Regions from separate parts of the Homo sapiens genome. Here all the other regions are reported to be linked to region 5. Evidence: microRNA targets listed by miRTarBase, many of them from high-throughput screens and not tested one by one. Region 5 holds a microRNA gene; each other region holds the end of a gene's coding sequence.

Region 1 (4,059 bases), not on the chromosome of region 5:
AAAAAAAAAGGTGAGTTAGGGTAAAGTATCAAAGAACATAGTTTTTAATTTTTTTCATGAATAACTTAAAAGAAGCAGGATGGGAAATGCCTATGGTCCAGTAACAGTAAAATCTTTCCCTTAATTTTCACAACCACTCTGATGTATAAGTCATTCCTGTTTTATAAACAGACTTACAGATTAACTTGCTAAGATTACTGCCAAAATACATTCTGTATATAATAAAAAAGGTTAATAAAACTCTCTTAAATCAAAAATCCAAACATCCTTAGAAAAATGAGCAAGACTATATTTAGCAGGGCAGTTTGGCAGTATCTAGTGAAGTAAAGGATGCAACCACACTTCTAGTTACCTAGATAAACCCAGACATAGAGAAACATGTACAAGGATACTGACTGTATTAGTATTTTAACAGCAAAGAACTGAAACAGCCTAAATATAACTCCGTAGGAGAATGGATAAACGAAGGTTTCTACATATGATGGAATACAAAGCTATTATAAGTTATGCCTTAAAAAATAAGTTATGTTTTCAAACCATAATATTTCAGTTTAATAGAGTATAAACTAAAAGATTTAAAAAATGAAAACATTAAATTGAAAAACAGTGTACTAAAAAATTAAAACATGAGCATACTAACTTTAGGATTAGTTATTGATATGGAAAGGTACAAAAGTGTTAATCTGAGATAGTCTGTGACAAAAATGTTGAAAAGGCATAAACAGAATGCTGTGAAAAATGTTTAATCTCACCTAAAATAGTGACAGAAAAGACTAAGGTTTGTTAGGACTCAAGGAAAAAACATTCTCATGTTTCTAGTGGAAGGCCAAAGTATTATATTGGCAGGGGATATCAAGTACAACGTTGTAAAAATGTTAAACGTTCACTCCTTTTTACTTCTAGAAACTTAATAGAGGTACTAAGTATATATAGATGTTCACCAAAATCTTCACCTCACTGTAACCTCAAATTTTGGAAACTTAAATATTCAGTGAAGTATAATTCCATCATAGTTTAGTACAACCATTAAATATCTTGTTTACAAAGAGTATTTAATGAAATAAATTCATTTAAAAAAGGCAGAATGAAAAACGGCGAATACTGTCAATAAGCCTGTCGTCTTATCTGCATTTTTTTGTGCATACATGTTCTACTGATTAACAGTTTTTAATCCTGTGTTATTCTATTTTGTTTTGTGTAAAAGAGGAAAAATTTCAAAAGCTGGAATCTCAAAAAAAATAGTAAAATTTCCTCTTAAAAGGAAATACAGGGCCGGGCACGGTGGCTCACGCCTGTAATCTCAGCATTTTGGGAGGCTGAGGTGGGCAGATCACCTGAGGTCAGGCGTTCGAGAAACGCTGTCTCTACCAAAAATACAAAAAGTAGCCGGGCGTGGTGGTGTGCACCTGTAATCCCAGCTACTCAGGAAGCTGAGGCAGGAGCACTTGAACCTTGGAGGCAGAGGTTGCAGTGAGCCGAGACTGCGCCACTGCACTCCAGTGATAAAACTGTATTTATATACATAACTCCAATGTAGATTCTTTACATTCATGCCACTCAGTGTAGGTCCAGTACTGTCAGCATCAGTGTAGGTGGGCAGTTGTAAGAAATGCAAGTTCTAGGGACTCACCTCAGACCTTCTGAATTAGAATTTGCATTTTAACAAAGTGATTTGCATATATTCAAGCTTGAGAAGCAATGCTTTGATGCCCAATTATTATTCTCCTAGCCCAAACTGCTGCAAATCTTAATATCCACAAAGCTGTTTTCTTATACTGCTGGGATTAATAGACATTATTTTACCTTCTGGGTTCTTACCCCCAGCCATATTTTTAAACTTGAGCAATTCATTTAAACACTTATCTGTAGATTCCTATGAAGTAAAACTATTAACAGCTGCCCAGTATTTTATTCAAATGAAAATAAACCACTGTAAAGTGAATACAAGAACTGAGGTTAAAAAAACAATCATTAATAAACCATAAAAATATGAAACTTCCAAAAACTACCATGAAGAATTAAATGAATAGTACCAGAAACAAAGGATATTATAATAAACTGTTAAATATGAAAGTGAATTACTTCTTCATGTGCATTTTTGTGCACATGACACCTGTTTTCAAAGGGCTTTTTTTCCCCCTGGTATTTCAAAAAACTTAAACATCTTAACCAATCATTGTATTTACTGGAAACATGTACTTATACAGACTTCCTGGACACTCCCAGGTCTAGGAAGCTTAATTAAGGAGGGCACAACTATGTAACAAGGTATTTTAGGAAGCAGCTTCCTGGACTTTGGAGAAGTCAGAAAGTTAGTAAGGGGTGTGTGCCATATACAAAATCTTTTTTAAAAAAGTACTATTAGTTTAAGTTTGCTTCTCATAGGTCAATACTAATGAGTACATTCCCTAACTAAAGTACTAAGAATTTATAAAAGGCAGCACCCTTCAGTTACATTTTAAATGATCCAAAACGTTTTTGGTCACATCTCTTAGATTAACATACATTTTGTACACATGACATTTGATCTGGAAGGCACAAATTAATGTACTGAAGCATGCTTTAATAAAGCCAACAGGGTCTTTAGTTTTTAATTCTCTGAAATTCAGTCCACTGTCTGTTTGCCACCAAGAACTTATATACTGCATTTCCTTCATGTTTTATCTTTAATCTAACAAATGAGAACAAAATATAAAGTCTGTTCTACCTCAGTCCAAACGCCTCTACCACACTGGCTTACTCAATTACATCTGACTTTCTCTTGCATTTCCAATTCCCAATCTTTGCTATACTGCTCTACAGCTGGGTTCAGTTAGAGCAATAACATCAAGAGTTAATCCAAATCAGTTGGTAGTACTTTAAGTTATCCCCATAAACATTGCAGATTTTTTAAAAACTGTCTAAATATTTGCCAGGTACACAAAAACAAAACTAGTACTTGGGGACTCCATTAGGCCAATGCTCTAAAAAGTAACACATGGCTTGTTACGGCAGTGGGATTTTGTAGTAACTCTCCTATACCCTCTTTATGGTTATTAAATCCTCTACTTAACCTTCTTTATGGTAAAATAGAAACGATTAGCCTTCATGGCTACTAAGTCAGCAAGTTTCATGAATCCTCACTTTCCTTGCAAAACAGAAAAATACTGGAAATGGAGGGCCAAAGGAAAGGGCATGGGATGATCTTTTAAGTGCTGCAAAGAAAGAGAAGACTAGTTATTCCTACAGTGTGGGTTTTTGTTTTAAATTTAAGGAAACTTACCTTTGAAAGATTCATTTTACTACAAAAAGGAACAGACTTTCTGGGGTCTGAAGGGATTTGTACTTGAAGATACTCCAGTCAGCAGAGGGTCATGTTGAGCATTCTGCAGACAGAACTGTTTCAAGTCTGCAGCTGCCTGGGAAACCTATACATAACAAAGAGGGGGGGAAGTGCCAGATGGTGAGAACATTTTAATGAAGGTTTTCTCAATCTTTGGAAATATTGTACTTACAATAAAACAGTACTTCTCTTGCTTCAAAAGAAGATACTATATAATAATTGAAGACTTAAGTCAAATAGTGAGCTCTTTTTTTTTTTTTTTTTTTTTTTGAGACGGAGTCTCACTCTGTTGCCAGGCTGGAGTACAGTGGTGCGATCTCGGCTCACTGCAACCTCCGCCTCGGTTCAAGCGATTCTCCTGCCTCAGCCTCCTGAGTAGCTGGGACTACAGGCGCACGTCACCACGCCCAGCTAGTTTTTCTATTTTTAGTAGAGACGGGGTTTCACCGTGTTGGCCAGGATGGTCTCTCTCTCTTGACCTCGTGATCCGCCCACCTCGGCCTCCCAAAGTGCTGAGATTACAGGTGTGAGCCACCACGCCCAGCCTAGTGAGCTCTTAATACTTAAAACTAGTGCTTGCAAATAAGACTGATTTAATTAAGTATGTTTTCTTTTGCTTGGTTACTAGAAGCATCAGATGACTGAGTACAAACAGTAGAATTATGTTGATTTTTGCAAAGCGTAGCACATCTTGCTTATTAATAATAGGCTGTTCAAGTGCAAACCTGAGGGTACTT
Region 2 (4,058 bases), not on the chromosome of region 5:
AGATGAGGCTTCAGTGAGCCATGATCACAACACTGACTGTACTCCAGCCGGGGTGACAGTGAGAACCTGTCTCCAAAAATAAGAATAAAAATTAAAAACCAGTTTAAACAAAGAAACATGGACATTTGTGACTTTTCTCATATGAGGCACTTATACTTTAGCCAGGATCCAAAAACCTGTTCCATTGCATTTATGTTATTATATGGAATTACTCTGTATTAAATGTGTAAACTTTTTTTAAAAAAGGAAACTCAATACTATATGTATTTACCTCCTGCCATGTACAATTTGCACTGCAATTTTTTAGCTTCTGAGACTAGTGAAACATTCATTTTTAAACAAAAGAACTTAATTGTTCTTTTAAAATATTTGACACATAGTGGAAAAGCAAGTCAACATCTATGATACTGATGCGTAAGAAAAAGTATAGTATATCACAATGGATTTGGATGATTGTGCTTCATCTTCGTACATATATCTTCAGGTCATTAAAAAAGCAAGACAATTGCTATCAGATAAACATGTTTATTGTAGATTTTTCATACACATTTTATGTACCTATTATTACAAAAAAGCTTATAATCTGATGGTAGTAGACTGATTGCTTACTTGAAAATATTAACTTCATACATATCAAAATACACCATCCTCAACTATATAATTGGACTGCAAAATGCTTGATATGAAGTATGTAAAAAAATAAGCAGTTTATTATACCTTACAACCTTATAAAGGGTTGCTATCTAGTACAAAGATAACATTTATCTTATAACAAAAATTTGATAGTTTTAAAGGTTAGTATTGTGTAGGGTATTTTCCAAAAGACTAAAGAGATAACTCAGGTAAAAAGTTAGAAATGTATAAAACACCATCAGACAGGTTTTTAAAAAACAACATATTACAAAATTAGACAATCATCCTTAAAAAAAAAAACTTATTGTATCAATTTCTTTTGTTCAAAATGACTGACTTAAGTATTTTTAAATATTTCAGAAACACTTCCTCAAAAATTTTCAAGATGGTAGCTTTCAGATGTTCCCTCAGTCCCAATGTTGCTCAGATAAATAAATCTCGTGAGAACTTACCACCCACCACAAGCTTTCTGGGGCATGCAACAGTGTCTTTTCTTTTCTTTTTTTTTTTTTTTTTTTTACAGGCACAGAAACTCATCAATTTTATTTGGATAACAAAGGGTCTCCAAATTATATTGAAAAATAAATCCAAGTTAATATCACTCTTGTAAAAAAGTTGAGCACACTTTTCACAAACAATTTATGTAAAAGAGAAGAAAATACACATAATTTTACATAATATCTTAAACTCTTTTATTCCCTACCATAGACATTTTGTCTTGTTTTCTTTCAGTTTTCTACAATTTCCAACTTGTACCTGTGTTTAATACTGCTTTAGTGTGCTAAAGACATTAACTGATTGCTTTCCTAAATCTAAGGATTATATAGTTTTAGTATAAATATATATCATATATTTTCGTAAAACTTTGACAAAACCAAATAAGCAAGCCTTGTTTTAAGTCCACGCTCCTGCCACTGTTTACAAAATTTGATTTAATGATCAAAAAACTATTGGTTGTCACTCTTCTGTTACAACAATCTTCCTTGTGAACTGCCACCCAGTTTTTACATAATAATAACAAGCAATAGAAAAACCAAAGAAATTATGTTAATCTTAGCTCTTCCTTTGCAAGTGTCTTTTCTTCTTACACCCAGTGCTTAGAAATAGGCACTCCTCAACCAGTGTTCACTGAATTCAACTGCTGAAATTGTAACAGTTAAATTATCAACACAACTCTTAATAAATAAACATTCCTTTGGGAAATTGTGGGAAATCAAAACACTTTTAAGTTTATACAAGTATTCATAAACATAAAATATTCTAGTTTATCCTAATGCCCTAGCTCTTATGAGTGCTATAGAGGCAATTAAAAAGGGAAAATTTCTTGAGTAGTTCACATGTGGAGAATTTGTTAAAACCGAAAAGCAGTCCAAAATTTTTAAAAGGCATACTAAATATTAGCTATACTCACTATTACATGGTATATAGCAATTTAGTAATTCATAGTACCACATATTTTACTTTAAAAGCAGGTCCCATATTAAGGCCTGCTTTTAAAATTGCCACTAAAAAGAAAATATTTTCAATTTGTATATTTAAACCATTAATTTAGATAACATCTTTTAAAGTCTACAAATTTAACATAGCCAAGAGTTGGTATTTGAGAAAAAGGTTTCAGTACAGGGTGTGAACAATGAAAAATTATAAAGGCATGTAATAAAAATGTTCCATAAAAACAAAGATACCTCAAGCAGGTCCACCTATACCTCTAGTTTAGTTTAGAAACTAATTCAGTATTTTAAGAATCATATAATTTTAAACTTTGCACTAAGCCTAACCTTTTTAAAAAATGGTCAGGGCCAGGTGCAGTGCCTCAAGCCTGTAATCCCAGTGCTTTAGGAGGCTGAGGTGGGAGGACTGCTTGAGTCCAGGAGTTCGAGACTGCAGTGAGCTGTGATTACACCACTGCACTCCAGCCTGGGAGAGCAAGAACCTGCCCATTAAAAAACCAAACAAAAATGGGCAGGTGTGGTGTCTCATACCTGAAATCCCAACACTTTGGGAGGCCAAGACAGGAGGATTGCTTGAGCCCAGGAGTTTGAGGCCAGCCTGGAAGCTACAGCGAGCCCCTGTCTCTATTATGTAAAAAAATAAAAATTTTTTTAAAAAAGAGGTTTTCTTATGTGTACCTGAAGCAAAGTAGTAAGTATATCTTTTCTTCTCCACGTTGTACAAGAGATGACTGTAAACACAAAATTAAAACTCATCTTAGGATCATGGTCCATCCACGAAGCTACTTTAAACTCTGATGATTCCAAGCAAGGAAGCAATATTTGCTTATTCAAAAAGTACTGAATATTCAGAGTAAGCAATATGCTAGATACTGTAACAATTTAAAAATACCAACACACATGTGTATTAAAAAGACACTGGCAGGCCGGGTGCGGTGGCTCATGCCTGTAATCCCAGCACTTTAGGAGGCCGAGGCAGGTGCATCACCTGAGGTCAGGAGTTCGAGACCAGCCTGGCCAACATGGTGAAATGCCGTCTCTACTAAAAATACAAAAATTAGCTGGGCATGGTGCCACACACCTGTAATCCCAGCTACTTGGTAGGCTGAGGCAGGAGAATCACTTGAACCTGGGAGGCAGAGGTTGCAGTGAGCCGAGATTGTGCCACTACACTTCAGCCTGGGCAACAGAGCGAGGCTCTATCTTAAAACAAAAAAAGGAAAGACACTGGCTTCAAATATACAATCTGGTAGAGGAATTAATATACGATTAGAGAACAAGTTTACCACCCTATACCACAAAACACTCTCATGGGTGTCAATTCTGAATATAAGGTTTGAAATCTCTTAAGCTTTTAAAAATACACATAACATTTAAGGCTTACAAAAAGGTTTACTAACATATTTTATAAAAATGATGCCATGTATCCTCCAGGTTAAGAAATGGTATCACTACTGTGAAGGTGAGTGGTTGCGGGGTAAAAAAAAAGAAAGAATGGCATCACATACCAGCTCCTGTAATATCATAATCCTATCAAGTACGGATTTGCAAAAATTTTCACTTTAGATATGAGGTAATTAATATGTTTTCTCCACACCCTGTCCTCACTTATCAGGTAAAAAGAATTTTACTCCTTTAAGATTAAAAAACAAGCATGCCTTCATTAAAAGAGATTAAAAGAAAAAAATCATCACGTCTTCTTGATTTATAAGTGGCCCCTAAGTCTTTTATTCTACTGCATTTACAAACTGTTCTTCTTGAAGTTTCAGTTTAAAGTCCTCTCTGATTCCTTCCAGTAACTCTGGTTTAAAAATAACATCCAGTGCCGTCATTGCCAGAGCTTTGGCCGTCCGCAGAGTGTAGAACTGAGCTTCCTGTGACCCTAAAAGGTAGAGAAAATAAAATACCTCCTTACTTATTTAAGCTGTATTTAATTTCACAGGTTAGCTACCCGTATCTCAACTGGCTCTCCAA
Region 3 (4,067 bases), not on the chromosome of region 5:
CCTGTAGGAAGGCAAGCGTGGAAGCAGAAAGACCCTCTGAGGCAACCACTTCAGCAGTGCAGAGGACAGCGGTAGGAGGGGCGGAGGGAAGTAGGCAGGTGCCAGAACCACGGTAAAGGAAGAGTTCCATGAGAATGCTTACACAGCAGTGGCAATCGAGGGCTGCATCCGCAAGGGCAGATGACACAGCACAGTGGTTCCCAACGCTCACAAGAAGCACCCTGGTTTCCCGCCTTCCTCTGTTCCTATTGGCACCATAATCTCTGTATAATCTGGGCCAAACGTGTTACCTCTCTGGGTCCCACAGATGAGATACTGTGCCCTGCCTCGAAGGCTGCCCGTGCGAAGCTCTTGCCATCTTTAAAGCATGCAGGCTGCCTGGCACCCGGGGCTAAACAAAGGCCACTGCTCTCCTTCACCGCGCAGCCCCCAGGCCTGCAGCTCCATGCCCCTCAGGTTGGGTGCAATGCCCCTGGTGCAGATTCTGCTCCCCGGGCCCTCTCTCAAACACCTGAGCAGGCTTGTGTCTCCCAGGGGAGGTCGTCCCCCGCTACTCGGGAGGGTTACGGAAACCAGTGCTTCCGCTTCCCCGCCGCCCGCGGGACAGGTGTCTCCTGGCCGAGCTCGTGCGGGGCCCTGGGAGGCTCTCAGTACACGGGAACCGTGGGTCCCGCCCGCCTTCCCGCACCAGGCCCCAAGCCCCAAGCCCCAAGCTCTCGGGGCCCCGTTCATCCGCCTCTCCTTGGCCCCACGCCTCCTCCTTGGGCCGGGGCCTGGTGAGAACCACGAGGGCCGCGCGGCAGCCTCACCCCTCTCGAAGTCCATCTCCTCCAGCGTCTGCTGTACGCCGAGCACCGCGCTGGGATGCGAGCAGCAGGGCCCGTCCGCGCAGGGCCGAGGCGTCGCCATCCCGGCCCCGGCGTCAGTCGATCCGCCCCGGGTCTCAGGCTCAGCCTCGGCGGGAGGGGCGGACGCAGGGCCCGCCCCGCGTCCCTGATCTGGCCGCTCGGCGTCCGCGGCTGTCGCCCTAGTCCCGCCTTCTCGCCAAAGCTGACCAATCAAACGCCTAGGCCTTAGCTCGAGAACCAATTGCAACGGTAGGGCGGGGCTTGTTGCGCCCGGCCGTGCCCCGAGGCCTCCGCGCGAGGGCGTCCAAGGCCAAGCGAGGACTGAGGCGCTGGGTTCCGGGAGCCGCGCGCCGCTGGAGGGCCGCCGGGCCGCCTGGCCTTGCAGGGTGTGGGGATGAGGCAGCTGGGTCCGGTCGGGAGCTTTCCCGTTACCTTCGCCATGACCCAGCCGTCCAGCGACCTCGCAGCCTCCTCTCTTTACCGCCCCTAGTCCCTAGGGCAGGGAGGCGCCACGCGCTCCGCGGTCTTTTTTTTTTTTTTTTTTTTTTTTGAGACGGAGTCTCGCTGTCACCCAGACTTGTGTGCAGTGGCGCGATCTCGGCTCACTGCAACCTCCGCCTCCCGGGTTCAAGCGATTCTCCTGCGTCAGACTCCTGAGTAGCTGGGACTACAGGCGCCCGCCACCACGCCCGGCTAATTTTTTGTATTTTTTAGTAGAGACGGGGTTTCGCCAGGATGGTCTCGATCTCTTGACCTCGTGATCCGCTCACCTTGGCCTCCCAAAGTGCTGGGATTACAGGCGTGAGCCATCGGGCCGGGGCGCGCTCCACGGTTTTTAGCCCCTCTTCCTGGCACCACCCCGGACCAAGGCCGACCGCCCCCGGGGCAGCGGCAAAGTGACGGCTGGAAAGGCCTCGAGACGCCCCTCCCCGTACCCTGCTCTTCCTTACAAGTCCAGCAAGGGGCAGGTGGCCACAACTTGTCCTGCCTGTAGCTCCACCTCAGGGCAGGGGCAGGGCCTTGGTTTGTGCAGAACCCCCTGGCCCCACAGTGGGCGCTGAGTTTACGGAATCGGTCTTCATGATCAAAACCCACCGGGAGGCCGTCTGCGGACCGCGCACCTTCGCAGCGTGCTCCTCAGCGGACCCCAGCCTTCTCAATTCCCAGTTAAAACCCAGGCAGCTGCCTGCTCAAGCCACGATCAAGTGTACAGGGGAGACCGCCTGATCGGCTTAGAAAGAGTGCATGAACGACAGAATGCAGGTTGGGTTCTGTGCCAGTCCCTCTCCAGGACAGTGGTCTGGTGCACACTGGATGTAAGTTCCTTCCCCCGCTAGTTGGGGCACGGAAGACCCTAGCATTCCTGGTGGGTAGAAGGCTGGAAGTCGTTTCTCCTCCCCTAAGCAGGTTGAGAACCCCATCCTCACACAAGCAATGATCTCATCTCCACAACCTTCCACTCCTTTGGCCCCTCATTCCCACTACCCGTCTTGAGTTCTGGGAAGGCACCCCCCCCACCACTCCGCTTCTCCCCTGGACTCCCAGTGCCCTGACTTCTCCTTCTGGCCAGAAGCCAAGGCTGGCTCCCAAGGGGCTATGGCCATGGTCTCGTTCCCAGCCCCGCAGCCACCACTGTGGGAAAACACTAGAGCTGGGCTGTCCCCTCCCACAGGCAGGCAGGGACCACAAAAGTGGTGGCTGCCCTGGGATTGTGGGGGAGGCCCAGTCCAGCCTCCCTCCACCCAGAGAGCCTTCCCTCTTGGTACCCAGAAAGGCTTTAGCCCAAACATCTTAGCCCCATCAGAGCAATCGTTTCATTTTCTCCATTTTATTTGTCAATATAAAAATACTCAAATATTTACAACAAATAAATACGCGGGGACACAATAAGTTACACTGTTAGGAGCCCTCCTCCTAGGGCTGGAAGAGAGTATGCCATTGTCCACAGCAGGCCCACCCTCTCCCTTCTCTCCCCTCACACAGCCTTTCCCAGCCCTGTACAGGAAGAAGGCAAGTATAAAATACCACTGAACCCCGGGGCCAAGTGGGAGGCCCCACCCACCCTTCCCCCCAAACACACAGGAGGCTCCATCTCCCTCCCCCCACCCTGAAAACATTCACAGCCCTAGGAGCAGGACTAGGCCCACCCCAAGCCCTGCACTCCCTCTGAAGGGGCACAGCACCCTGTCCACCCCACCTCCATATGTACATCGCTGCCCGACACTCGGGGCAGTGGGGGTAGGAGAGACAAAGTGATACGACCCCTTCCCCTTCATAGCTCCAATGACTCACCAGGAGGACCCAGGCCAAGGGAAGACTTGACAGAAACAGGAAGGCTATGCCACAAGCGCGCACGCGCGTGCACACACACATACACACACACACAAACACATGTGCAAATACAGACAAACACACATCTTGAAACTTCTGCCTTGAAAAGTTTTGGCGGCTGGGGTCCCGCGTGTCTGTGATTCACAGAGAGGAGGAAGATGCCTTCTGCGAGGCTGGTGCCCTGGTGAGCCACACCAAGTGGCAGTGCCCGTGCTGAGCAGAGCAGGTCCTCATGGCCGGGTGGGTGCTGGGCAGTATCTGTCCCAGACAGAGCAGGTGCCCGTGCCATGTCCCTGAGGTAGCTGGTGCCTGTGCAAAAGTAGGAGCTACACCTCCCACGCTTCCCGCCGACGCGGTGGGGGTTCCCCTCATACTGATGACTCCTCGGGGTTGGAGTCGGGCAGTGGCTGGCGTTGCTGCAGTTTGCGTCTCAGTTCATCCGCGAGCTCAGGCAGGGGGTGCCCGAGCCCTCCCCGGTCCTCCCCTCCTAGTTGTAAGCGCACGTAACCATTGGCATTTGAGTTCCGCCCACCCCCCAGGTGAAGCCGAGTTGGAGAAGGCAGAGGCTGGCCTGGGATGCCTGGAGGTGGCGAAGGGGGCCCCCCACCGGGCTGGCACCGGGCATGCCCAGGTACTATCTTAAGGGAGCCATCTGAATAGTAGTAACCGACAGGATCCCAAAGTTTCTCATCTGGTTCAGGACAGGGCCGGAAGGGGGGACTGGTGGGCTCCTTGGGCAGCTCCAGGGGGTACACCAAGGTCCTCTCAGTAGCCTTGGCCCCTTTCTCCAGCTCTTCCCGCAGCCGCCGGCGCAATGACAGCACCAGCAGCAGCAGCACCAGGCACACAGCCCCCAGGGCCACCACCGCCAGCCACACCAGCCCCAGG
Region 4 (4,067 bases), not on the chromosome of region 5:
AGCCAGGTGCAGTGGCAGCCGTCTGTAGTCCCAGCTACTTGTGAGGCTGAAGCAGGAGAATCACTTGAACCTGGGAGGTGGAGGATGCAGTGAGCCGAGATCACGCCCCTGTACTCCAGTGTGGGCAACACAGTGAGACCCTGTCTCAAAAAAAAAAAAAAAAACTTTGATCAAACACCACCTTTCCCTTCCATGCCAATATTATATAATGACTGAACGCACCTCTCCCGCTCCCGGCTTTTTTATAAGTGGGCTGAGCTTTTCTCCTTATATTTTACTTTTTATCAAAAACATTTAACTCTAAATTTGCTTGAATTTAATATTGGTTTTAAATATCTCCAGAAAAGATTACAGTAGCATAAACAGAAGCAAGGTTGCCTTCTTTCACAGTCCCTAACTCTCATCCTTGTAGGGTCATCAAGACTCCTGAGATAGCAAACTTGGCCTTGCTTGGCTTTGGAGATATCTTTGCCCTGCTGTTTGACAACCGCTACCTGTACATCATGGACTTGCGGACAGAGAGCCTGATTAGTCGCTGGCCTCTGCCAGAGTACAGGAAATCAAAGAGAGGCTCAAGCTTCCTGGCAGGCGAAGCATCCTGGCTGAATGGACTGGATGGGCACAATGACACGGGCTTGGTCTTTGCCACCAGCATGCCTGACCACAGTATTCACCTGGTGTTGTGGAAGGAGCACGGCTGACACCATGAGCCACCACCGCTGACTGACTTTGGGTGCCGGGGCTGCGGGTTTTGGGTGCAACCTCTGCGGCAGCCGACTGCATGAACCAAAGTTCTCACCTAATGGTATCATCACGCAGTGCACAATCATTTATCTATGTTTTGCCAGGGGCCAGGGCTCGGGGTGGGGGAGGGCTTGTTTTATTGACATACAACGCAGCATGCTAATGGGGTACACCATTGACTTCATTTGTACTTAGTTATGTTGGTCAGTGTTAGAGGATGCATTTTGGGTTCATCTTTCTTGAGTGGAGTATTGGTTTTAAGTAAAGAAAGTTAAATGATCCATTAATCTGCTAATTGGTTGCCTATGAAATCACATTGTCTGTTATTAAAGCTTTTTACCATAGCCTTTTTTTCTTTTGAAGTTGAAGCAAAGGTGCTATGATGTTGTTACAGCAACTTTCCTCACACGGGGTTTAGCTCTTATAAGAGCCAGTGTTAAAACTTCCACCAAATACCAGTTTATAAACTTCCACCAAATACCAGTGCTAAGGAAAGTCTGTCTTCCAGTTCAAATCCAATTCTGTAAATTGAATGTTAGCAACTCATTCTAAACCTTATATCTTGGCAGAGTCAAGGTTGGCCATGTTTAAGATGTGAGCGAGTTCTGTAGTTTTTGTTGCCATGTCGGGGAAGCTAGTCCCCGGCAGCCTGGATGACTGCACAGCGGTGCCCTGGTATAGCAGAAAAGAGCAGTGAGCTGGAAGGTTAGAGACCGGGCCTCTTACCCTGGAACTCTGCACCCTCTCTGGGTCCCAGCTTCCTTGTCTGTACAGCCAGGTATGAAGCTCAGTGATTTCTAAGATTCTTTCTGGTCCTTCACCTACTGAAATGTGTAAAAGTTGATCATGTATTTTTGTCTGATCCCTGATTCATGGTTTCTTTCAGGTCGGATAATATTTAAATGAAATGACTGTTACAGAGTTTTCTATAAGAACATCAATTATATGAAAAGGATGAATAAAAGGGAAATGTAGAAAATATAGCTGATTCCACTTAGACAGTTTAAGTAATTGGTTGAAGAAATGCTGATAGAAGCCATGGTTTAAATAGGGACACAGTATGCTATACTAGAAGGATACCTGAACCCAACCTAACTTCCTCCTTTGCCTCTAACTTAATCTGCAGCCTCAGGCAAGTTAACTTTCTCTTCTAAGACCATCATTTTCTTCATCTTTTAAGTGAGGGAATTGTCCTAGATGAGGGCTCACAAACCCAAATGCCTAAGGGAGCCGTGCAGGTAACATAAATGAGTAAAACATTCTGGGGAGGATTGTGCTGTCCCCTGGAAAGTTGATCTAATAGGGCAGTTATTCAGCTCTGTTTTGTCATTAGGAGAAGCAAGCCCAGGGTTGGCAGGTCTTCACATTGTTTCAGGAGGAGCTAGAAATCCAGATTTTTATTTGAAATCCTGGATTTTTAAAACGTTACAACTGATTAAAGAAAATTTGAAATAAGGTGAGCCAAACAAAACATGTCCCTGGGTTGCCAGATTGTGTCCTCCTCCCTCTCTAAAGTTAGGTAATTTTGTGATTCAGCAGTGGAAATGTTAGTGGTCACAATCAGGGAGAGAGTAGAGGGAGCAAGCAGTAGAAAAATCTCAGCCGCTCTTCAGCTGTCTCCCCTTGTATTACAAGGGTGGTGGGGAGGGATGTATTTCATTCACAGACCAATAGGAAGGTAGTTTGAAGATGAACATAAGAATTGGAACCTCAGTGACAGCTTATGTCTGGGAACATGAGTTATTCCTTCTTGCTGACTCCAGTATAAAGCATATCCATTTTACAGGTGAGAAAAAGGGTTGCTGGCAGAGCTGAGAATGATGTGAACTCTAGAGTGGGGACCTATCTCTTGCAGAATCTGCATTAGCATAGAGCCAGACTCTGGACCTCTGAGTGCTGTGAAGTTGATAGAAATTAATGGTGAATTTCAAGGACAGATATCATTAATATCCATGTTGAAACTCTGTGGGGTTTAAGCAAAAGAACAATATCTTCCCCCATCCCACAAAATCTGGGTTTAATCTATCTCACATTGAGTTCTGTGCATCAGCTCTGCTTAGTACTCTAGAAATAGAACCGGAATCACAACTGAATCTATTTTGCAGAAGCCCCAGGAGACTTTGGGCAATGATGATGGTAAATGACTTTTTACTTTATTATTATTTTTTTTTTTTTGAGACAGAGTTTCGCTCTTACTGCGCAGGCTGGAGTGCAATGGCACGATCTTGGCTCACTGCAACCTCCGCCTCCTGGGTTCAAGTGATTCTCCTGCCTCAGCCTCCTAAGTAGCTGGGATTACAAGCATCTGCCATGACACCCAACTAATTTTTATATTTTTAGTAGAGACAGGGTTCCACCATGTTGGCCAGGCTGGTCTTGAACTCCTGACCTCAGGTCATCCACCTGCCTTGGCCTCCCAAAGTGCTGGGATTACAGGCGTGAGCCACCACGCCTGGCCGAGTTTTTACTTTTTATCGAGCCTGAACAGATAACTATTACTGATCTAATGACCATCCCCACCCTACCTCACTTTCAGATCTATCCAATAGCTTCAAAGGGCAAGTAATTATAATCATTTGTGGGAAAAGTTTTATTAAAAAGTGACAAACTTGAAGCTGTATATAGTATGTTCTATTTCAGTTTTTAGTGGTGAATACAGAAGTCATCAAGGTGGTACTTGGTGCCGCTGGAATTTTTTTTTTTTCCTAGGCAGTCTTGCTCTGTCATACAGGCTGGAGTACAGTGGCATCATCATGCAGCTGGATTTTGACAGCAGAACTTCAGGCAGTAATTGGAGTCCTAATGTCAGTTCTTCCTTATGGAGGCCTTTATTTGGCCTGAGATTTTATTCAACTACTTTATAGATGCTGGGTTTATTCATACTATCGCCAGTTTTTATAAAAATGGAAAACTAGCTCATCCTTTTTGCAAAAGAAAGCAAAGTGGGGAGTCAGAATGAGAAGTGGATAGGGGATAACTAAAACTATTCTTTACTCTCCTTTCATTGCCTTTGAGAGCTAGCTCTTGCACACACTGACTTTGGCTTCCTTAGCGCATAGGTAAGGGAATTGCCTTTCCCTCTTTTGTGAATATTCTCATTTCTGAAAAATTCTAAGTCATGAGAAGATAAGCCCTATCCTTTCTTACAAGGATTGGATTTCTTGGGTGACACTGTGGTGTGGTGGAAGCCAGCGGCTTCTTTCAGGTTCATAAAGGCCATCATAACAACTTCAGGCTTCATGGTGTGGACAGGGATCCAGGAGAGCTGAGTGGATGTGTGAAGTTTCTGATAGATTCTGTCATCATTCCAAAGGAATGTAGTT
Region 5 (4,067 bases):
TTAGCCCATAGGTCAAATAAAAGATTAATAATTTAGACATATCAGCTGTAAATTCATAAGAACCATATGGATGTCCAAGTGGAGGTGGAGGAGGTGATTAAGATGGAAAAAGGCAACCATGAATGAAGACACACAGATCCTCAACCTTTAAAACAGTAAGACACAGTTTTTCACTTATATTAGCCCTTAAAAACCATAAGATGCACTGTTGAAATGGTGCATATTCCAAGAACTGTTGATAGAAATCAAATATATTTTGATGGGAAGAATTAACATAGATAACTGTGTATAATTTTCTTTCAGTGTACACTTAAATTACCTAAACAATTAAAGCCTTATTTTCTTATTCTGTTAAGTGTTAGTAGTAAAGTCTACTTACTTAATAGGGCTAGAGCATGAAATAAGAAAACCAGGCATATCATTTTCTTTGTGTAATGCCTACATATTGCAAGTTGCATATTTGGTAGCCACTGTGCTAATTTCCATTTATGACTATGTCTGTATTTTCTAGAAAGTTGTTTTGTAACCTTAATTAAGAAATGCAAAAATGTTCAGACCTTTTGTGCAGCAATTTTACTAGTAGGAAATTATCCTAAGGAAACAATCACTTACACACACACACACACACACTCACATACACACGCACACTCACATGCACACATCTATACCATAAAATTTTATTATGAAATTATTGTAAGTTTATAAAAATATTTACCAATAGAATAATATTAAGTAACTCATGGATTTTTTATTAAAACTAATTTTGGTATTTTTTAAAGGACTAAAGATATTTTGGTACAGATTTCAGGGAAAATAGGATGCTAGCCCTTGAGAACATGCCGATCTTGCTCCTTGGCTAACTACACCATTCACCTTACTTTGGCTAGGGAGGCATTTGCAGAGCTCTCCTTCTGACATTTTTGTCTAGAGGAGGCGTTGTTGTCTCCCTTACTCTCAGAAGCTTCACGTGTGTTAAGGAAACTTTTTAAGTGTCTTTCCTTTTTGAAATGAGCAAGTGGTAGGTATATAGATACTTTATTATTTTTATCTTATTTATTCAAATATTTTATTTTCCTTCTATTCTATCTTTTTTACGATAGGCATGGACATTCTATTACACATTTGGAAAAATACAGAGTGTAATACACTCTATACCCAAGTCTATATGCAAAAGCTGTTTCTATTTTTCTATATTTGCATCACTAGGTATATGTTCTTTTTAAAGTAAATTATAGATACATTGGTACTTCATTCTAAATACTTCAAGCATATATCTCCAAAAATTAATATTCTCAAATTTTGCTGCAGTGCTATTATTACAGCTAAAATAATTGAGACAAATCACATAATATTACAAAATACCCACAAATTCTATATTTGAGCATATTCAGATATTCTAAAAGTGTATTTATAGCTGATTTGCTCACACCTGGAGTCAATCAAGAATCACACATTGTATTTGGTTGTGTTGGTTCTTAAATCTCTATTAATCTACAATAGACCCAACTATATTTTTCTTTACTTTTATGACATAGAAAGTCTATTGCCAGTGGTTGTCCATTTTCAGATTTGTAATATAGAATTGGTTTGTTTTCATTCTCTGAAGCATATTATATCATTACATTACACAACAACTTCCTGACTTTATTCAATAAGTACATACTGAATTATGAGTGTATGTCAGCCAGAGAACGTATAGCTATGACAGAAAAAAAAAAGAAAGATCTGTCTTTCTTTTTGCTCTAAATATTTTTTTCTCTTTCCTTTAGGATGCAACTGACTCACTTAAAATAGCTGTGTGGATATAGAACTTTTATCAACTACTATTTACTAAATTATATTGGTGTGTTTGTCCTCATCTTAGAATAGCATATCAATAGATGCTATAAAAACATAAGAGGTACGTTTGTAAAACATTGAATTCGGTTCCAAATATCTCAAAATTCTTCCCTAAAGAACACTTTTTGATCGAGATTAAGACATAGGAATCTAAGTTCATCAACCAAAGATGGGTGCCTGACTGCTCATCAACTAATTTTATATGACTCAAAGAATAGGAATTCAGAAGATCTGTGTCCAGCTTTGTCATGGGTAAATAAGGAAGGCACCCATAAATCTTATATAAGTCGTAGGAAGAAGTGTGGTTCTTTGCAGTGAACCATTTCCTGGAAGACACAAGACTGGGGGGATTTTTTAACCTTTGCTGTTTTCCAGGAGTACAGGTTTCTGGTAAAATTCAACATTGTCAGGAGCAGCCAGAGTGATAAGATAACTTATACACAAGACAATCCCTAATAACTTATACACAAGATGATCCCTAATGCAAATGGCGCCTGTGTCTGGAAGAAGCAGTGACACCTTCATAAAACTAAACTTTTGCCTTAATAATATGGTGCTTTCCAGTAGAGGCAATAGCAGAGCCCAGGAGAGAAAGTACTGCCCAGAAGCTAAAGTGTAGATCAAACGCATAATGGCTGAGGTAGTAGTTTCTTGAACTTATTTGTGAGCACATGCAAAAAGTCTCCTGAGTTAAAAACCACAACCACAACAACAACAATGACAACAACAACAACAACAGGGAGGACATTTGCAAAAGTACAGAGTCTCTGCAAGCTTCTGAAAACAAGAGCCAGTAAAAAATGTGATGTAGTAATGTTATTACCACACATGTGAATTCGTTTTTACGTAGTTTTGATGACTTGTGGAAGTTTAGGTTACAGTCACATAGAAAAGTATTTACCCCTTACCTGAAGCACCCTGAGTTTGAGATCAAGAAAAAAAAGATACTAAATGTTTCATCTTGGCATGGCTTGAGGCATAATAGTAAGATAGATATAATAGTATCCATTAATGGCAGAATTCCATCATTTTATAGATATGACTGTCTATGTTATGGTATGTTTTGTAATAAACATGTTTTGTTTTAGAAAAGGAAAATGTCAGAAATATTTGAGATGTCTGAAAGAGTGAAGTTTTCCTAGTGCTGTGAGGAGATTACTAAGAAAAAATGGCATGTACTAATTTTATTTGATTAAAATAAGAACTCAATAATAGACGACAAGCTTCAGGCTAGTTTTAGGAACAATAGTTCTTTCTTTGTCTTTGTTTTGTTTAGTTTTGAAGACAGGGTCTCACTCTGTTGCCCAGGCTACAGTGCAGTGGCACAATCGTGGCTCACTGCAGCCCAGCCTTGGCCTCCTAAGCTCAAGTGATCCTCCCAACACAGCCTCCCATGTTGCTGGGACTACAGGCACACATCACTACTCCTGACTGATTTTTTTTCTTTTTTTAATGTTTGTAAAGACAGGGTTTCACCATTTTGCCCAGGCTGATCTAAAACTCCTGAGCTCAAGTGATCCTTCTGCCTCAGCCTCCTAAAATGGTGGGATTATGAATAAGAGTCACCATGCCCAGATGAGACTTAACTTTCTAAGTAAATTAGACATAATTAACAATCAGTAATATAAACATTTTAAGCCTCCATTTGTAACCAGGTCCTTTCAGCATTTTGACAGAAGTTCTGTATCTTCCACTTCAATACTTAAATTTACTTTTCCTCAGGCACCTGCATTCAACATTAATTTTAAAAAGATCCTGTCAAGTACTACTCTTGAGCTTTTGTTTAATTATTCTTATTACAATACCTCCAGAAACTACCATGAAGGAATTTACATAATTGATATTCATACATTGAAAATAAAATAGAGACTTTGCTGAAGTAATTTCTACTGTCTACTGAAAATAGAGTTTTCAGCTATATTACAAGATAAATTAAATTGTGTTGTAAAGGTCTGGGTGCAAAACTATAATTTTACCATTTTTTTTCTGGAAAATATGGGTTCGAGTTTCTAATTCATAAACTTAAATTGTTCTGTGGTGAAATTAAAAAGTTTCTTGAAAAGTACTTGTATGAAAACTAGTTTTTCTCCGTGTCTACTATGTAGTGTTTCTCAAACTTGCTACTATGGATGCGAGAAGGTTTTTGAAAGTATTGCTTTTTTACGTTCCACAAGTTCTCTACTAAAATTTTTATTTTAGTTTTATCTTTCTATTTTGATAATAATTTC
Region 6 (4,067 bases), not on the chromosome of region 5:
CATGCTGGCCCTCCACCCCTCTGTCCCCTGTCACCCTGAGGCCTCTGGATTTCCTCTCTGCCCTTCCCAACCTGCCAACTTCACGGGTTTCTGGCTGGGTTCTGGGGATGGCCCCTAGGGGAGACGGGCCAGGCACAAGCGGGGCTGTGTCAAGGTGGGTATGCAGGGGTAGCACAAGTGTGCAGAGCCTGGGGAGGCATGGGCAAAGCATGGCAGGCGGCGGGGCAGGGGATCTTGGAAGGTCACGGGCTGGGGAGCAGTGTGGGCAGCGGCCCAGAGGTGGGAAGGCCGTAGCTTAGCTGGGTGTCCCCTTTCTGTCCTCTGCAGGTGGAGCCCCCTGAGCTGCCCGCTGATCTGCAGCACTGGATCTCCTACAACGAGGCCAGCAGCCAGCTGCTCCGCATGGAGAGTGGGCTCAGTGATGTCACCAAGGACCAGTGACCGCCACCTTCACACCGTCTGCCCTGGCCACCATCCTGGGCCTGGGGGCTGCCCACAGATGGGCAGTCTCAGCCATACTCTGTTCCAGCTGGAGTAGCCTCCTGACCAGCCTGGCCCACCCTGCTCCACCCACTGGGCCCCCCCAGTTATTGATACCCCTCTGTGCTGGGCTCCACGCTAGGCAGAAGGAGGAGTGGCATTGGCATCCTGACCCAGCTCTGCCCTCAAGGTGGGGATGGATGGGCAAAGGAGAGTCCTGCCTGGCCCTACGATGAGGCCACTCATGTGGGCCTAGGTAGGGGAGGATGGTGCCTGGAGCAGAGGGACCCACAAGTGCCTCCCGAGCCTAGATCCTGGCTCGGACCACTGCAAGGGCCGAGGCAGGGCCAGACCAGAGCATCCTGGGTACAGGCCTGGGCTCTCCAGGGCCTGGGCCTGATTCAGGTGCAGTGGGCACTCCTGAAGGGTCAGAGCGGCATCTGCCAGGCAGCCCCTCTGGCTTCCGCTGAGGTGGTTGCAGGCCTGGGGCAGAGCCTGGGTGGTCAGAGGCCGGGGCTAGAGGCAGATGGAAGGGAGGCATTTGCTGACAGAGGACGGGGCACCCGGGCTCCCCACTGCAGTCGGCCTTGCCTCCTCCTCCTCCTCTACCTCCAGTCAGGCTGGACGGGAGGGTAGCCTTGTGGCTGAGAGGGGTCAGACTAGGTGGCACAGGGGCTCCTGGAAAGACAGCAGGCTTCCTGCTGGGCGTTCCCTTGTTGGAGGGAATAGAGTGGGGGTGGGACTCTGCAGGGGTGTCCTTGTCCACTCGCACCCCTCGCCGCCCACCAGGGCCATGCTCTGTGACTTGGGCTGATCCCCACCCTTTCTGGGCCTACAGCACCACAGGCCGCTGTACCCCCTTAGAGCTGCCCCTCTCTGGCCTGGCCGGCAGGCGTCTTCTTAACTCCTCTGTCCTCTATATTCAGCATGTTCCTTGTCAGCTGCTGGGCCGGCCCTGCCTTGCGCTAGCAGAGCCTCTCCTGGCAGCTTCTCAGGTCTCCCTAATGGAGACACCAGGCTACTAGGACACTGGCTGGGGCCACCCCCTCCTGCCTAATGCCTCACCTTACAGCTGGGGAAACTGAGGCCTGGAATGGCCCAGAGTCACCAAGGCAAAGTTGGGGCTGGTCCCAGCCTGAGGCTCCAGCTGATGCCCTCAGCTCCCAGAGAGGGGGTGCCCCATCTAGCTGGGTGCAGGGGTCACTGCTTGTCAGCTCAGGGCCCTGTGCCCGCTTGCCTGTTCCCCTACATCTGTGCCTGCACATCCAGAACTGCCTCCTTGCCGCTGCCTCCAGGAAGCCCACCTTGAGCCAGAGTCAAGGGCTGCAGCACTGCCCGATAGAACACGCCCGCCCTCACTGCTGTTCTTGCCTTACAGCCACCATGGGAAAGCTGCAACCTTTCTGTTTTATTTAAAGAAAGCCCAACATTAAAGGGTTTTCATTGCAAGCGTGCTGGGGAGGGCCTTGTTTCTGAGCTACCACCACCACCATCCATGCAGGGGCGGAGGTGGGACCAGGGAAGCTGGGGCACATTCCCAAGATGGGTGTCTGGCATGGGGGGCTATCCAGGTTTGTTGGGCTCCCGTGAACTTAGGGATCAGGCTGGCAGGGCAGGGCTTGTCCTCATCCCATGGGGCATAGGACTGAGGCCAAGAAGGTGCTGTCCAAAGCCCCCTGGGGAGCCAGCCCTTCCTGCTCCGGCCCTCCTGGTTCCCAGCTCTCGAGGCTTGCAGCCCCATCTACAGATGCCAGCGCCAGGTTCCCGGTTTCCCTCCTTCAGGGATTACCCTGGCGGTCATGCCTCAGACTCTGGGTCTGGCCCTCCAGGCTCCCAGAGCCTCGGGCAGGGTGCTGGTAGCCATTGGGGGCAGAGGTCAATGGACTGGTGGGTGGACAGGAGGCAGAGAGAGCATGGGGGCTGTTCTGCAGGCCCTTCAAAAGGGGTGGGGAGAAGTGGGACCCTCCGGGACATAAAGTTGAGTGAGGCGGGGTGTGGCCACGTCCATGCTGTGACCACCTTCCTGGGAGGGTCCAGAAGGCTCTGAGGGCCAGGGAAGGAGTGGGCAGTTGGAAACAGCTATGAAACCGGCATTTAGTGATGGGGCAGTAGGGCTGGGGAGGGGAAGCAAACTTGCTCAGCAAATCTGGGGTCTGTAGCCAGACTGGTTGGCCAGAAGCCTCTGTGCTTTCTCTGGGGTCCTTGGGGGAGGTGGCTCGTGGGGTCGCCACAGGTGTGTGAGCTGAGTGTTGCCAGACAAGCTTCCCAGTGGGGCTGCAGATGAAGCTGTAGGGATGCCGTCCAGCTGATGGTCCTGACCATCTGCCTGAGCCCTGGAGCAGGGCGGGGGCCACAGGACAGGGTGCCTGGGCCTTGGGAGGGCACCATGTGATGATGCCACTGCGGTCCCTGGCTCAGCAGCTACCTCTGGGTCGTGGAAGGCACATTGGCCTGGATAGGGAGTAGGGCTCAGTGACTGGACTAGGAATGAGTGTATCCAGTGCGCATATGGATGTGCGTGCCTGTGTGCATTTGTGTGTGTGTGTGTGTGTGTGCGCACGTGCACGCAGGCAACGGGCAAGCTTCAAGGTGGTTGAATGGGCAGCACCCGCAAGCCTCTGGGGCTTCTCTCTCCATGCAGAAGCTGAACACCCTGGGCTGTCATAGGCTGGCTCAGAGGAAGGTTTGAGCCAGCAGGGCCCTCTCTTGGTCTTGTTTTTGGAGGACGGGCTGACGACAGGACTGGCCCGGGTCAGGGAATGGGTGGCTGGGATTGGAAGTGAACCAGTGCCTTGTCCTGGCGGAGCCACTGGAGCCCACTCTGCTCCTGTGAGCCTGCCACTCGGAGAAGTTAGAGGGCAGCAACTGCTTCGGCCCGCGTCCTTCCCCCAAGGCCAACAGCTGCAGAATTTCTGCCCCAGCCGCCCCCACCCCCGGAGGTGTCTGCACAGTGTCCAGGTGTCGGGCCCAGGAAGCCCTTGGTGGATGCTGGTGAAGAAGGGACAGGTACAGGGTATGGGAGTGTGTCCGGAGGTCCTGGGGTGGTGGCTGTGCATGGGTCCGTCGTCCTGGGGGAGGAGGCACTGTGCCCTCTGATGGCCAGGTGGACAGAGTCACGACTGCTTTGGTGGGTGTCCCCGGGGCTCACCCTAGGTCAGTTGCCTGCTCAGTCTCAGCATCCAGCCACCGCCTCTGGGCTCAGTCAGCTGACTGGCCACTGTTGTGTCCCCTCAGGGCCCAGGGACACAGATCCCCACATCTGAGGCCTTGCTGAGTGGAGTTCTACTGTGCCTGGTGTCCGGAATTCTGGGACAGCAGGACCATCGCCCACCTCATGGATAGGGAAACAGACTAGGGCAGGGAATTCCCAGTATGGCCGCCAGGGGCTCAACGAGGCAGGCCAAAGGGGCTGATTCGTCCCAGGCCCAGGCCGCCGCTCCCCGCATGACTTCCCCTCTGGACACCTGCGAGTTGGGGGCACCCTTGGGGAGGTGGAGGGTCTTGCTCCTGAGGGCGGGGAGGGACGCCCTGCGGTCTGCACACCCCTCTCCTTTAGAGATTTCTTAAAGCTGCGGAAGACTAGCGCT
Region 7 (4,067 bases), not on the chromosome of region 5:
GGAGTTGGGAACCAGGTACCAAGTGCCTTACGGCCCCTGCAGGTATGTCCTGAGCCCAACCAGGATTGTTTGGAAGATTTTAAGCCGAGGGTGAGAGGTAGGATGGATTCAGATTTGGGGACCTGAGTGGGGAACCTGATCAGATTTGCTTTTTGGAAAGTGACTGTGACAGATACGTGAGCCATGGGCAAGTCTTCAACCTGAGCCTCAGTTTCCTCATTTCTCAAGCAGGAACAATAGATGTGCGTGAAGACTGGAAGCGATAATGTATGTGAAAAGTGGTATATGTCAACTATTATTACATGACTTTGAGTCACGAATGAGCTAACATGCTTACGTTCTCAAGAAGAGATCAGTTTCGTCATCTGCTTGGTATTGTTTCTTGATTTATACAGCTGTTTCCTCAAGCATTTTTCTTTAAATGGGAGCAGCTATTACTATTTTTTGTCTGTTTCAGCTTCAACTCTGTTACAAATTGGAAGGAACGAGTTGTTGAACATTGATCGTAGAAAAGGAAAAGAAAGTTTTTATTTTTTGCCTTGTTGTGCATTCATTCTTTCAAAAGCTGTTTAGAGGAAAAAACATTTTCTATCTTCTCATAGTAGTAAGTAGCAACTCAGGTGCCTGAAGACCCCATCATATTTTACTAAAACTCTCCACTCCAAAAGAGCATCAGTTGTGTGTAGGTGAATAGAAAGCTGGTGTGTAGGCCGGGCACGGTGGCTCACACCTGTAATCCCAGCACTTTGGGAGGCCAAGGCGGGTGGATCACCTGAGGTCAGGAGTTTGAGACCAGCCTGGCCAAAATGGCGAAACCGTGTCTCTACTAAAAACACAAAAATTAGCCTGGCATGGTGGCACGCACCTGTAGTCCCTAAGCTACTGCAGAGGCTGAGGCGGGAGAGTCGCTTGAACCTGGGAGGCAGAGATTGCAGTGAGCCGAGATCGCGCCACCGCACTCCAGCCTGGGTGACAGAGCGAGACTCTGTCTTAAAAACAAAAACAAACAAAAAAGAAACCTGGTATGTAAGTAGCTAAATATAGAGACGTATAGGAGGCATCTTGTAATGTGTGATTATTCATTTGATTTTATTCAGTGTGCTATTAAGAAGGGCCCTTCCTTCTAAAGAAAATTAGAACATTTTCAAAGCTTGCGTCTGAATCCTGTCTCACTACTCAGTAATGGAGTGACCCAGGAAACCGCATCACCTCCCCAAGCCCCAGTCCCTGTGAAATGGGGAGTGTAGTAAGACCTGCTTCCTAGGGCTGTTGGGAGGATCAGGTGAGACAATCTGATTGAAGGACTTGGACCAGTGCCTGATAAATAATAAGCACTTGGTAAGTTATTATTAGGGCTGGGAGAGCAATAACTTCAGCTGCGAAAGCTAATACTAGTCTATCCTGATGACGGCATCAGATACTTATTTTCAAGTTTCTTCTGAAGACAAATTTTAATTGACACTTGAAAACCAGGAAGAGCATGAAAAAGAGGACTCAGTGTAGCCTCTAAAGGCTGTTGAGCCTGAAGAGGTGTTGGAATGCCGTGCCCGCCTTGTGGTGCAGGCTTCAGCAGTTTAGGCCCAGAGGACTGTGGGTCCCACCTGCCTGACAGCAGGGCACACAGGTGCTGAGCAGTTGGCCATTACTGGGCTGTGAAAACAGCATGAATGGGGAATGGAGACTGTGGGCAAAGCAGTACAGTCCACTTGTTCGCAGGTGGGAAAGTCAAACTCTGTCTTTATTCTTTTTTTTTTTTCTTTTTGAGATGAGTCTCGCTCTGTCGCCCAGGCTGGAGTGCAGTGGCGCGATCTCGGCTCACTGCAAGCTCCGCTTCCTGGGTTCACGCCATTCTCCTGCCTCAGCCTCCCGAGTAGCTGGGACTACAGGCGCCCGCCACCGCGCCCGGCTAATTTTTTTTTTGTATTTTTAGTAGAGACGGGGTTTCACCGTGTTAGCCAGGATGGTCTCGATCTCCTGACCTTGTGATCCGTCCGCCTCGGCCTCCCAAAGTGCTGGGATTACAGGCGTGAGCCACCGCGCCCGGCTGTCTTTATTCTTTTACCATTTTATTTGGGATAAGTAGCAGCACTGCCTGGGAAGACCCTTGGGAGGGAGAAGGAATCTGTTGGATGGAAATCTTACCTTTGAGCATCAGTTATATTTAATGCCTAGTTTCAGCCCTTTTCATATTAGACTTTCCAACAGCAAGTCAAGGAAAGTCAAGGAGCGAAAGGAAGATGGGCTCAGAGGAAAGGTTTTTTTTTTTTTTTTTTTTTTGAGATGGAGTCTTGCTCTGTCACCGAGGCTGGAGTGCAGTGGTGCGATCTTGGCTCACTGCAATCTCTGCCTCCTGGGCTCAAGCGATTCTCCTGCCTCAGCCTCCTGAGTAGCTGGGATTACAGGCATGTGCCACTACACCCGGCTAATTTTCTTATTTTTAGTAGAGATGGGGTTTTGCCACGTTGGCCAGGCTGGTCTCGAACTCCTGACCTCAAGTCATCTGCCTGCCTCGGCCTCCCAAAGTGCTGGGATTACAGGCATGAGCCACTGCGCCCGGCTGGAAAGGTTCTTTTAAGAGTTCCACAAAGTGGCCAAAAGTTTATTCTTGCATTTTATCATGCGTATGCCTTGGAGTTATGTTTTTGGAATATGACTTAAGAAAACAAACTTTCCAGGTAACACGTAGCCGGTTCCCATCTTTCTAGCATCTCTGCCTTTGGCTGATGTGACGCCATACGTTCCTGACAGTTAATGTTGGCTCTGTAGGGATCTGATGCCAAGTACAGTCATAGCTCAGCCATGACACAGGGCCTTCCAGATAGGCCAGATTCAGTGCCCTTCCCAACAGATGCCTCTCCATCCCCCACACCTCCCGACTCCACCAAAATGAAGTGGAAGCACGTCTTGAGTTGCCCATTTCTTCTGTGTCTGGTCAGGCACACGTCAAGAATGTTGGCTGGTGATGGGCTCAAGGCAGGCACAGCCCGCTTCACTGTGCATGTGTGCAGGCTTGATTGACACTGGCAAAATCTGCAAGGATATTTCTAGACATTCCAAGTGATTGGTTCCTCTGAGGAAATGAAACATTAAAAAAAAAAAAAAAAAAAAATATATATATATATATATATATACACATGTATATTTAATTATTTTTTTAAAGCCACAATTGAAAAAATTCTTTGCCACTGGGTAGAATTAAATCTGACAGGAAACCCTAGGAGTTTTTATTAGTACCATTATTGTTTTCTTTGGCTCCATGTATTATGTCGGTAAAATGACAAAAAAAAAAAAAGGAAAAAAATTGTAAAAGACAAATATTTTGTACAAAAATACAAAGTTTTAAAAGCTCTTTAAGTATATTTCATATTATTACTAATAGTTGGCCTATATATCTGTATGTCTGCATATTTTTCCTACACTTGGGATTTTAGAAATGTATGGCACTGTTTACACAGTATATGCTTAAGTTCTTCCCATAACTCAACGACCAATGATAACCTTTTTCTGATTGGAGTGTTCCATACTTTGGAAGACATAATTTGTATAATCGCACGGTTACTGACGGAGGAGAATCTATGTGATTCAGTCCATGTGCACAATGAAAATCAGCATATCACCCTGGGGAACATTTTAGTTCCCAAGTCTTTGGGTAATGACGGATGGTAAAAAACACTAGCTGTCAATTTTTTTTCAGTAATTGGTTTTCAGTGCTTTTTTTTTTTCAATCTGATGAGAAGGTGATGCAATTAGAAAGGAGTGTCCTTTGCCTTTGAGAGCTGAAAATTTGCTCATGTGATCCCATCACAGTCCGTTATAATGCAGATGACAGTACTAAAAGAGAGAAATAAGAATGGGCATTAGTTTTTCTTAAATAATAAAGTTAATGTGCAATTCAAAAAAAGGGAACGTGTATTTTTATAGGACAGTGTCTAAAATACATCATTCAACAATGCTTATATTTTCAAAGAAATGTCTAGAAGATCTTATTTGGATGAAAAGATAAGTTTCATTTTGAAAAGCCAAGTTTCATTTTGAAAAGCCTATTCTGGGAAAGCCTGGTCCCTACT

Evidence for each region. Region 5 holds the annotated microRNA hsa-miR-4500 (UGAGGUAGUAGUUUCUU, at 2,476-2,492, shown strand). A microRNA usually pairs through its seed, bases 2 to 8, with sites in the 3' UTR of a target mRNA and lowers its output. Matches are read on the target gene's strand: a 7mer-m8 pairs with bases 2 to 8, a 7mer-A1 pairs with bases 2 to 7 and ends in A, and an 8mer does both.
Region 1: the mRNA of GNG5 is a reported target of hsa-miR-4500. The part of its 3' UTR that is shown has no 7-base or 8-base seed match.
Region 2: miRTarBase lists PM20D2 as a target of hsa-miR-4500. Seed matches in the 3' UTR shown: 7mer-A1 at 3,654-3,660.
Region 3: the mRNA of SEMA4C is a reported target of hsa-miR-4500. Seed matches in the 3' UTR shown: 8mer at 3,474-3,481.
Region 4: the mRNA of FBXW2 is a reported target of hsa-miR-4500. Seed matches in the 3' UTR shown: 8mer at 3,266-3,273.
Region 6: miRTarBase lists THEM6 as a target of hsa-miR-4500. Seed matches in the 3' UTR shown: 7mer-m8 at 1,086-1,092.
Region 7: the mRNA of COLEC12 is a reported target of hsa-miR-4500. The part of its 3' UTR that is shown has no 7-base or 8-base seed match.

What each region holds. Positions count from the first base shown.
Region 1 is chr1:84,498,564-84,502,622 of GRCh38, forward strand. GNG5 (G protein subunit gamma 5) reads right to left here. Exons shown (of 4, transcript NM_005274.3): 3 at 3,263-3,407. The coding sequence ends at 3,282. Among named protein-coding and RNA genes, the nearest start is that of SPATA1, 5.8 kb to the right of the region's middle.
Region 2 is chr6:89,162,017-89,166,074 of GRCh38, reverse strand. It overlaps PM20D2 (peptidase M20 domain containing 2), which reads right to left. Exons shown (of 7, transcript NM_001010853.3): 7 at 510-3,966. The coding sequence ends at 3,812. Among named protein-coding and RNA genes, the nearest start is that of PM20D2, 18 kb to the right of the region's middle.
Region 3 is chr2:96,857,079-96,861,145 of GRCh38, forward strand. It overlaps SEMA4C (semaphorin 4C), which reads right to left. Exons shown (of 15, transcript NM_017789.5): 15 at 2,640-4,067. The coding sequence ends at 3,548. ANKRD39 (ankyrin repeat domain 39) reads right to left here and starts at 938. Exons shown (of 4, transcript NM_016466.6): 1 at 810-938. The coding sequence starts at 909. RefSeq lists silencers at 599-768, 799-1,468.
Region 4 is chr9:120,761,193-120,765,259 of GRCh38, reverse strand. It overlaps FBXW2 (F-box and WD repeat domain containing 2), which reads left to right. Exons shown (of 8, transcript NM_012164.4): 8 at 413-4,067. The coding sequence ends at 701. Among named protein-coding and RNA genes, the nearest start is that of FBXW2, 30 kb to the left of the region's middle.
Region 5 is chr13:87,617,096-87,621,162 of GRCh38, reverse strand. It overlaps MIR4500 (microRNA 4500), which reads left to right and starts at 2,423; the gene lies at 2,423-2,498. The region is part of intron 1 of LOC124900338 (formin-like protein 5); the gene reads left to right. All of the region lies in intron 1 of MIR4500HG (MIR4500 host gene), which reads left to right.
Region 6 is chr8:142,734,999-142,739,065 of GRCh38, forward strand. THEM6 (thioesterase superfamily member 6) reads left to right here. Exons shown (of 2, transcript NM_016647.3): 2 at 328-1,929. The coding sequence ends at 441. Among named protein-coding and RNA genes, the nearest start is that of SLURP1, 5.4 kb to the right of the region's middle. RefSeq lists an enhancer at 3,391-3,957.
Region 7 is chr18:316,234-320,300 of GRCh38, forward strand. COLEC12 (collectin subfamily member 12) reads right to left here. Exons shown (of 10, transcript NM_130386.3): 10 at 504-3,831. The coding sequence ends at 3,812. Among named protein-coding and RNA genes, the nearest start is that of THOC1, 50 kb to the left of the region's middle.